Linked DNA regions of Homo sapiens. The protein of the gene in region 2 interacts with the protein of the main gene of each other region in a pairwise test. Each region holds a gene or a part of one and is shown on either strand. Other genes may lie near its edges.

What was found. The genes of interacting proteins can lie anywhere in the genome.
Region 1: the proteins of FAM209A (region 2) and ERMP1 interact in binary tests that used the Homo sapiens proteins (3 or more experiments, as listed by UniProt).

Annotation. Positions count from the first base shown.
Region 1 is NC_000009.12:5,831,495-5,835,319, reverse strand, and holds the start of ERMP1 (endoplasmic reticulum metallopeptidase 1), read left to right. Parts: upstream 1-2,202; 5' UTR 2,203-2,292; coding exon 2,293-2,630; intron 2,631-3,825. UniProt on the Homo sapiens protein: Within the ovary, required for the organization of somatic cells and oocytes into discrete follicular structures.
Region 2 is NC_000020.11:56,522,585-56,526,184, reverse strand, and holds FAM209A (protein FAM209A precursor), read right to left. Parts: upstream 1,442-3,600; 5' UTR 1,377-1,441; coding exon 1,128-1,376; intron 403-1,127; exon of another isoform or gene 382-402; coding exon 115-381; 3' UTR 33-114; downstream 1-32. UniProt on the Homo sapiens protein: May play a role in sperm acrosome biogenesis.

The sequences.
Region 1 (3,825 bases), on a different chromosome or scaffold from region 2:
CTGAAGGTAGAAACATTGATTTGTTCTTCTCTGTTTCTCCACCTTAATCAGTATCTGACACAAGTAGATATCCAACAACTAGTAGCTAAAAATATTCAAACGTGAATACCGTAGACTATACAAGTATAGAGAAAAACTGCCTTTCAGGAACTCAGCTGTAACTTAACTCCTACCACCTAGAGTTCTATGATTATCATGATAGGAAAGTAGCTTTTAATCTAATCTACAAAGGATTTCATGAGAAGGAAAATTCTGAAAAATAGTTTTTAATGAGAATCTTATGTGAGGATCTTTCACACACACACACACACACACACACACACACACACACACACACACACATCTATCTATCCATCTATCATCTGTCTATCTATCTAATCCTCACTGAAGCCCCTTAAGGCAGGTATCATCTGCATTACCACAGATAAATACACGTGGACTCTGTGAGATTGTAACTTGAATAATGCCATGTGTACTAAAGGTACCAGATCCAGGAACTCAGATCTACCCGTCCCCAACAGCCAGGCAGCCAGGCATTTCCCTATTATGGTACCATGGGATATTGTCAGACATACACACACACACACACACACACACACACACACACACACACACATATATACATACATATAGTTATGACCATGGGCTAGGCTCTTATCCAGAGCTAAGCACTATGGATACAGTGATGATTAAATAAGATAGACACTGTCTTTAGTCTCATAGTGCTTACAGACTGAAAGGGATCTTGTAGAGCTAAAATTATGCTTGCTGCCACAAAAGTGGTATGTTTTCATTTTTTCATTCACTCAAGAAATATCTATTGACTACATACTATGTGTCATGCTTTGTGTTAAGAGCAAGGAATAAAATGGTGAGTAAAACCAGACCTGATTCCTGCCTTCGTGGGGCTTACAGTCTAATGAGGAAGTTATGAAATAGTCACATGCAAACATGGTGCTGTGAGATCCTACAAATAGGGGAAGCAAGCTTAATTAAATTAGGAGATTCTTGCTTGAGGAAGTACCACTTAATCTGAGATTTAAAGGATAACTAGGAGTTAAAAAGACAATGAGGAGAGAGAAGAACACTCCAGGTAATTCAAACAGCATGTGAGAAGATCCTATTGTAGAAGGAAAGATGCGTGCAGGAAGTCTTTGAAAGAGGCCAGTGTGGCTGGAGAGCTGGAAATAAGAAGCATCCTGGTGTCAGAGGAGCCTGAGAGGTGGGCAAGAGCAGGACTATAGGGCATTGTATGAAATCTGACATATGTGCTAAGTCAAAATCCGGCAGTGTGCTCTCCCAGTTGGTCTCTAGGTTAATGCTCATGCTAATGTAGCAACTCCAAGCTAGGGACAAAAAACCTTGGAGCAGAGAGGCTCATGGGTACCGGCAAGCTGGAAGAAGACTAGATAATCACTAGGATCTGCACTGAAACCAAGGCTCTGCTGCTTAACCGCCCCAGAGAGTCGTCAAGTGAAGAATGGCCTTTCTGAACCTTCACTTGCAGAGTGCTAATGTAGTAGTGGAACAGAATGCTGTTTTGGGAGCCCATGAAATTAGATTTACATTCTTCATCTGTTATCTCTACGTTTCTCAGGTTATAAAATGGGAACAAAGATATTTCCTTTTAAGTATTGTTAAAGATAATTAAATAAGATGATGTATTAAAGGACTTGACCTAGCGCTTAGCTCATAGCAGGTATTCAATAAATAATAGCCATTATTTTTCTTTATCTGTTAAATGGAGACAGTAATAGCACAGATTAAGTTGCTGAGTTATGAAGATCTGATTAGATTATGCATGTGAAAGCAATAGGCCGGGCCTCCTCTGCGTAATCTTATTTCTAATTTTAAGAGCCAGGAACCCACTTTTTTGGAGCCTGATGTTCTAATATTCCTTCCTTACGAAAGCCAGGTCATTGCTTTTTTCATCTGCCTGATGCACTGTAAGAGCCTTGTGTGTTCTTTCAAAAGCGATCTCTCATTTTTCTCGTTTTGGGTTTTTAGGTGTCTTTACATTTGGCAATCTCCGTCCTACAGAGGGCTGGAAAAGCCCTGCGGGAGACGGCATATCCACCACCCGCTGCTGGGTCGGCCCTGCAGCTGTGTGCACCCGAGAACTGCCAAAGAAGCTGGGTCTTGGCGCGGCGGGACGGGCCAATCAGAAGAAGTTTGGCCCTCTGCAGTTTCCGTCCGCTCACTAGGAGGCGCTGCGGCAGCGACGGCGGCGTCGGCGGCGGCCGGGGCTGTCGCGGGTTGGGGCGGTTGGGCTGGCAGCTGAGGCTCGTGGCCATGGAGTGGGGTTCTGAGTCGGCTGCTGTGAGGCGGCACCGCGTCGGAGTAGAGCGTCGAGAGGGAGCGGCGGCCGCGCCACCGCCGGAGAGGGAGGCCCGAGCGCAGGAGCCTCTGGTGGATGGGTGCAGCGGCGGCGGGAGGACGCGGAAGAGGAGCCCCGGGGGTAGCGGCGGCGCGAGCAGGGGCGCGGGGACCGGGCTGTCTGAGGTGCGCGCCGCGCTGGGGCTCGCGCTCTACCTGATCGCGCTGCGGACGCTGGTGCAGCTCTCGCTGCAGCAGCTCGTGCTACGCGGGGCCGCTGGACACCGCGGGGAGTTCGACGCGCTCCAAGCCAGGTACCGGCCGCTCCCTCCTGGCACGGCCCGCGCGTCCGTTTGCGGCTCCTGCGCAGGCTCCGGGGCACCGCACCTGTGTGCACCCGCCCCTGCCGGACCGCTGGGACTCGCTGACCCCTCCCAGGCTGCACGTGGGGTGGGGTGACCTTGCTTGTCCTTCTTCTGGGGTCTGAATTGCCGGGACTTGGGGCTTGCCTGTCCCCGGTTAAGCTCGTGGTGCAGATTGGGGTTGCCAGGTAGATTGAACCTGCTTTCCACTGTCTGCCCTTCGTGCAGATGGTTGGTTGTGAGTCGTCTCCCCATATTCTGGAACAGCTTCCCCTTTTTACCTTGCTTAGCCCTTCTGCTTTCCAGATGGAAATTTGTGTACCTAGACTGTTGTATAAATTCGCTTTGGGGGCGGGGAGTTTTGGAAGGCGCTAGTGCACTGTTCTAACTTTCTGAGGGTTACAGCCCCCACATCTGAAGGCTATAGAAACTCTTTCTGGAACACCGCCCAGTCAAAATTTGGTATGCAGTCTGATAAATTCTCAGATCCCTGCAGTTTATCTTTAGGCCCCTTGGATTAGTGACTGTGTAAGGTTTGACTTTTTTTTTTTTTTTTAAGACCTTTAAGAATGCTAGGAAAGGTGATTAAGTCAAAGATATTGTAACCCAGGTGTGTCAAAGCTCATGAAGTGTTAAGCTGGCGTCAAGTTTTCAACAGCTACTGTGTTCTAAAAAGTTTTTGCTAGAATGCAAAGTGTTGCAAGCTTATTAAGGACTTTCTGAAACGTCTCCCACCCCCACTTCCAGCTTTCCCCACTTGGAATGCAGTGAAAAGACAAAAACAGTTTTGTTTTCATTAGGGGTACAGTTGGTTTTGGCCTGAATTGAAGTTATTAGACCTTGGGTGTATGCTAGGAGGGCTAGGTCCATCAAAAGTTTCCCCCGCCCGCCTTATTTAACCTCTTGACTTGATTATTTTTGCTCATTGGTTTCTGCTACTTAAAGTCATTAACCCAGAATCTGTAACGTTCAGGAGTATGCACAGTGAAGTTATATTCTATCCTGCTTAGTCTTTAGCTTTTTTTGTTTGTTTTCTGAGACAGGGCCTGGCTCTGTCGCCCAGGCTGGAGTGCAGTGGCTCCATCTCGGGTCTGTAGCCTCCACCTCCCAGGTTCAAGCAGTCCTCCCACCTCAGCCTCTTGAGTAG
Region 2 (3,600 bases):
AAAGAAAAGAAGCAAGCTCTCAAACATGGAAGTTCTTTTCTTCAGAATAGTTTTATTAGTTTGCATACAGTTTGTCAACACTCAACTTTTTTCTCTCCTGACACACAAATCCATTCAGCTAGAGCTTTCTTCTCCCCATATTTCACAGATCGTGACATGGTATGGATCTGCAGGCATCTCTGACTTTCGAAGCCTGAGGTTACTGCCACTACCTGTTGCCATGGCACGTTTAAGATTCCGCACTTTGGACACAAATTTCATAAGCTCCACCTCGAGTTCCATTAAGGTATTGAATGCACAGTCTTTGTTGGGGGAAGCATTTCTTTTTTTCTTTAATGGAGAGTGAAGTTGGCCGCCTCGAAGGCCAGGAGGACTCTGCTCCTGTCAGGAAAGATACTCAAGGTCAGTAATATTGTGAACTTTGTTGGTTTTGACACAGTTCGTGTTACAACAGCAGACTTGAGTAGTTGCAAGAAGACCATACTGCCCACAAAGCTGAAGATATTCGCACCCTCCCTGGCCCTTTACGGGAAGGGTTTGCCGATCCCTGCTCTCATCAGTTTGGGCACAGGATTATGAAGTGCTGGGTCTTTCTAGGGGAGAACGCACTTTCTCTCCCCTTCCTTTTCTACCTGAAAGAGTTGTTTGTGGTCACTTTGAGGACCAGCTCAAACTACCTTACATCTTTATCTCTTCAGCACAAGTCTCATATTTTGTTGGGATAATGATATCATTTCCATTTAGCTCAGGATTTTGTAGTAAGTCAAACACTAGCAAGAATTTAAAAAACAGGGGCTAGTGAATCTGGCCCTGTGAATAATTTTGACTTTCTGAAACACACCATAAGTTCTTGAATCTATCCTACATTTGAAAAAATCCATCTAACCAGAAAATCTGTGAGCCAGTAAGCAGAGGTCACTTTCCACTCTTTGTCCCAGTATCTGTGGATCTGGGGACAATTGTCTTCACTAAGGATACATCAGGAAGTGAATTTGCCAGCTTTGCCCAGGACCATGAGGTCGGTTCATTATACCCAACGGTGCCGTCTAGACTCACTAGAACATCCGTTTCCCTGAGACTCCTGAGATTGAATCAATATGGTGTAAAAAAAATGGAGCCATCCTTACCTTATTCTTCTCACTGTCTCTTTGACACTGCAGTATCACAAACGGCACAACAACAAAAAGAAGCCAGAGCCATTTGCTCCCAAGCCAGCCTTGGGTGTGCTCTGGTAGATTCTGCCGAATCCGAAAGTGCTCTCCGTATTGCACCTTCCCCTGGGGTTCGCTAGTTTTCTGTCTCAGAGAAGAGAACATAAAGGCATAGCTGCAGGTGAGGCACAGAAGCAGGACCAGGGACGATTTCAGCGTCCACATGGTGAGCAGAGATGGGGAAGGGAGTTGCTCATGACGGGTTTGCTTGCCCTCGCAACTGGGAGACTGGGCACCTGGTGCCAGGCCCTTGGTGATGTCACAGAGGCCCTGAGCTGAGGCCACTCTGGCCATTGTGATGATTTCAGGACAGAGGTTACAGGTCACAGGGGTTGCCCGGGAGGAGGACTCAAAGGGAGATGGGGGCATTTCCAGCAGGCAGTCAGAGAGAGAGGATGGGCACGACGGGGTGCCAATTCCCTGCCAGGGGACTCTTTCCAACCCTGGAGCTTTGCTGGGAGAGGCCATCATGTTTTTGTTTTTCATTTGTTTGATCCAGACATTGTGATGAGCAGAGGGAGATGCCATGTGCCCCGTGGAGCTGAGTTAAACGGGAGAGAAAGATATTAAACCACAGGCTACCTACAAATTTGGAGCCACCTATGTGGCTCAAACTAAACAAACAAAAAATTTGTTTTTGTTTTTTTTTGGGGACGGAATTTTGCTCTTGTTGCCCAGACTGGAGTGCAATGATCTTAGCTCACCGCAACCTCCGCCTCCCAGTTCAAGCCATTCTCCTGCCTCAGCCTCCTGAGTAGCTGCGATTACAGGCATCCACCATCACGCTTGGCTAATTTTGTATTTTTAGTAGAGACAGGGTATCTCCATGTTGGTCAGGCTGGTCTCTAACTTCCGACCTTAGGTGATCCACCTGCCTCGGCCTCCTAAAGTGTTGGGATTACGGGCATGAGCCACTGCGCCCGGCCCACCTATGTGTTTTGTTTGGCCTACATTGTTTTTAAAAATTGTCAGTACTTAAATATTGGGGGGCATTTCACTTTAAAACTCCACATTCTGGCTTCCTTTGAAAATATGGGAGGTCCAGAAACAATGAGTGCACACCCTCATGGAACCAGTCTCTCTGCTGCAGCCAAGTGAAACCGTCCTTTCGGTGGCCATATTCCCTCCACAGTCCCCACCACTCACTATTACCTCACACCATCATTGATCGTAGCAGTGTGTGCCCACCCTGGGTTAAGAGTATACTTTGGGCTGGGTGTGGTGGCTCACACCTGTAGTCCCAGCACTTTGGGAGGCCAAGGCAGGTGGGTCACCTGAGGTCAGGAGCTGGAGAATAGCCTGGCCAACATGGTGAAACCCCATGTCTACTAAACAAAAATTAGCCCGGCATGGTGGCATAGGCCTGTAGGCCCAGCTAGTTGGGAAGCTGAGGCAGGAGAATCACTTGGACCTGGGAGGCAGAGGTTGCAGTGAGCTGAGATCGCACCACTGCACTCTAGCCTGGGCAACAGAGTGAGACTCCATCTCAGGAAGAAAAAAAAAAAGAGAGAGAGTATACTTTGATTAAAATTGTGATAAGAACAGGAAGCTTTAGAGACTAGCATAAGGGGACTGCTCTAAACTAGGTTATGCAGGAAGCAGGAAGAGTGTCCAGAAAAAGATGGTTGAGTAGAGCAGGGGAGATGATTAAGAGTTGGTGGGTAAAATGGGAAGGGGCTGAATCCCCCAAGTAAAAAGGAACAGCTAGCTTGACAACTGAGGCCAAGGCTGGGAATAAACCTAGGACTCCATAGTATACTCGAAACCATGTGTTCTTTAAAATGACATGAAACAAGAAATCCTGGGTGCTGGAACGCACGGCTTGTACTTGTTCCCCTGGGTCATCTGTAGAGCTATCTTCCTGAGGAAGGCTCTGATTTGCAGATTTACTCCCGAGGAGCAGAACTTTATGCTGCACAGGAAATAATCAAAGTTCAGCTGGGCACCTTCGCTGTGCCTTAAACTACTGATCTCTGTGGAGTGACAAAGTAGTTCTGCAAGACTATGGCCAGGGGCAGTGGCTCATGCCTGTAATCCCAGCACTTTGGGAGGCCAAGGCATGCAGATCACCTGAGGTCAAAGAGTTTGAGGCCAGCCTGACCAACATGGTGAAACCTTGTCTCCACTGAAAATAAAAACAAATTAGCCAGGTGTTTTGGTGCACACCTGTAATCTCAGCTACTCTGGAGCTGAGGCAGGAGAATCGCTTGAATCCAGGAGGCGGTGGTTGCAGTGAGCTGAGGTGGTGCCACTGCACTCCAGCCTGGGCAACAGAGTGAGACTCTCTCAAAAAAAAAAAAACCAAAAAATAGTTCTGCAAGACTACTCTAGAAAACCGAAAGGGGAAAACGCTGTTGGGCTGTGCTGCACAGCTTCTTCCTCCATGAGC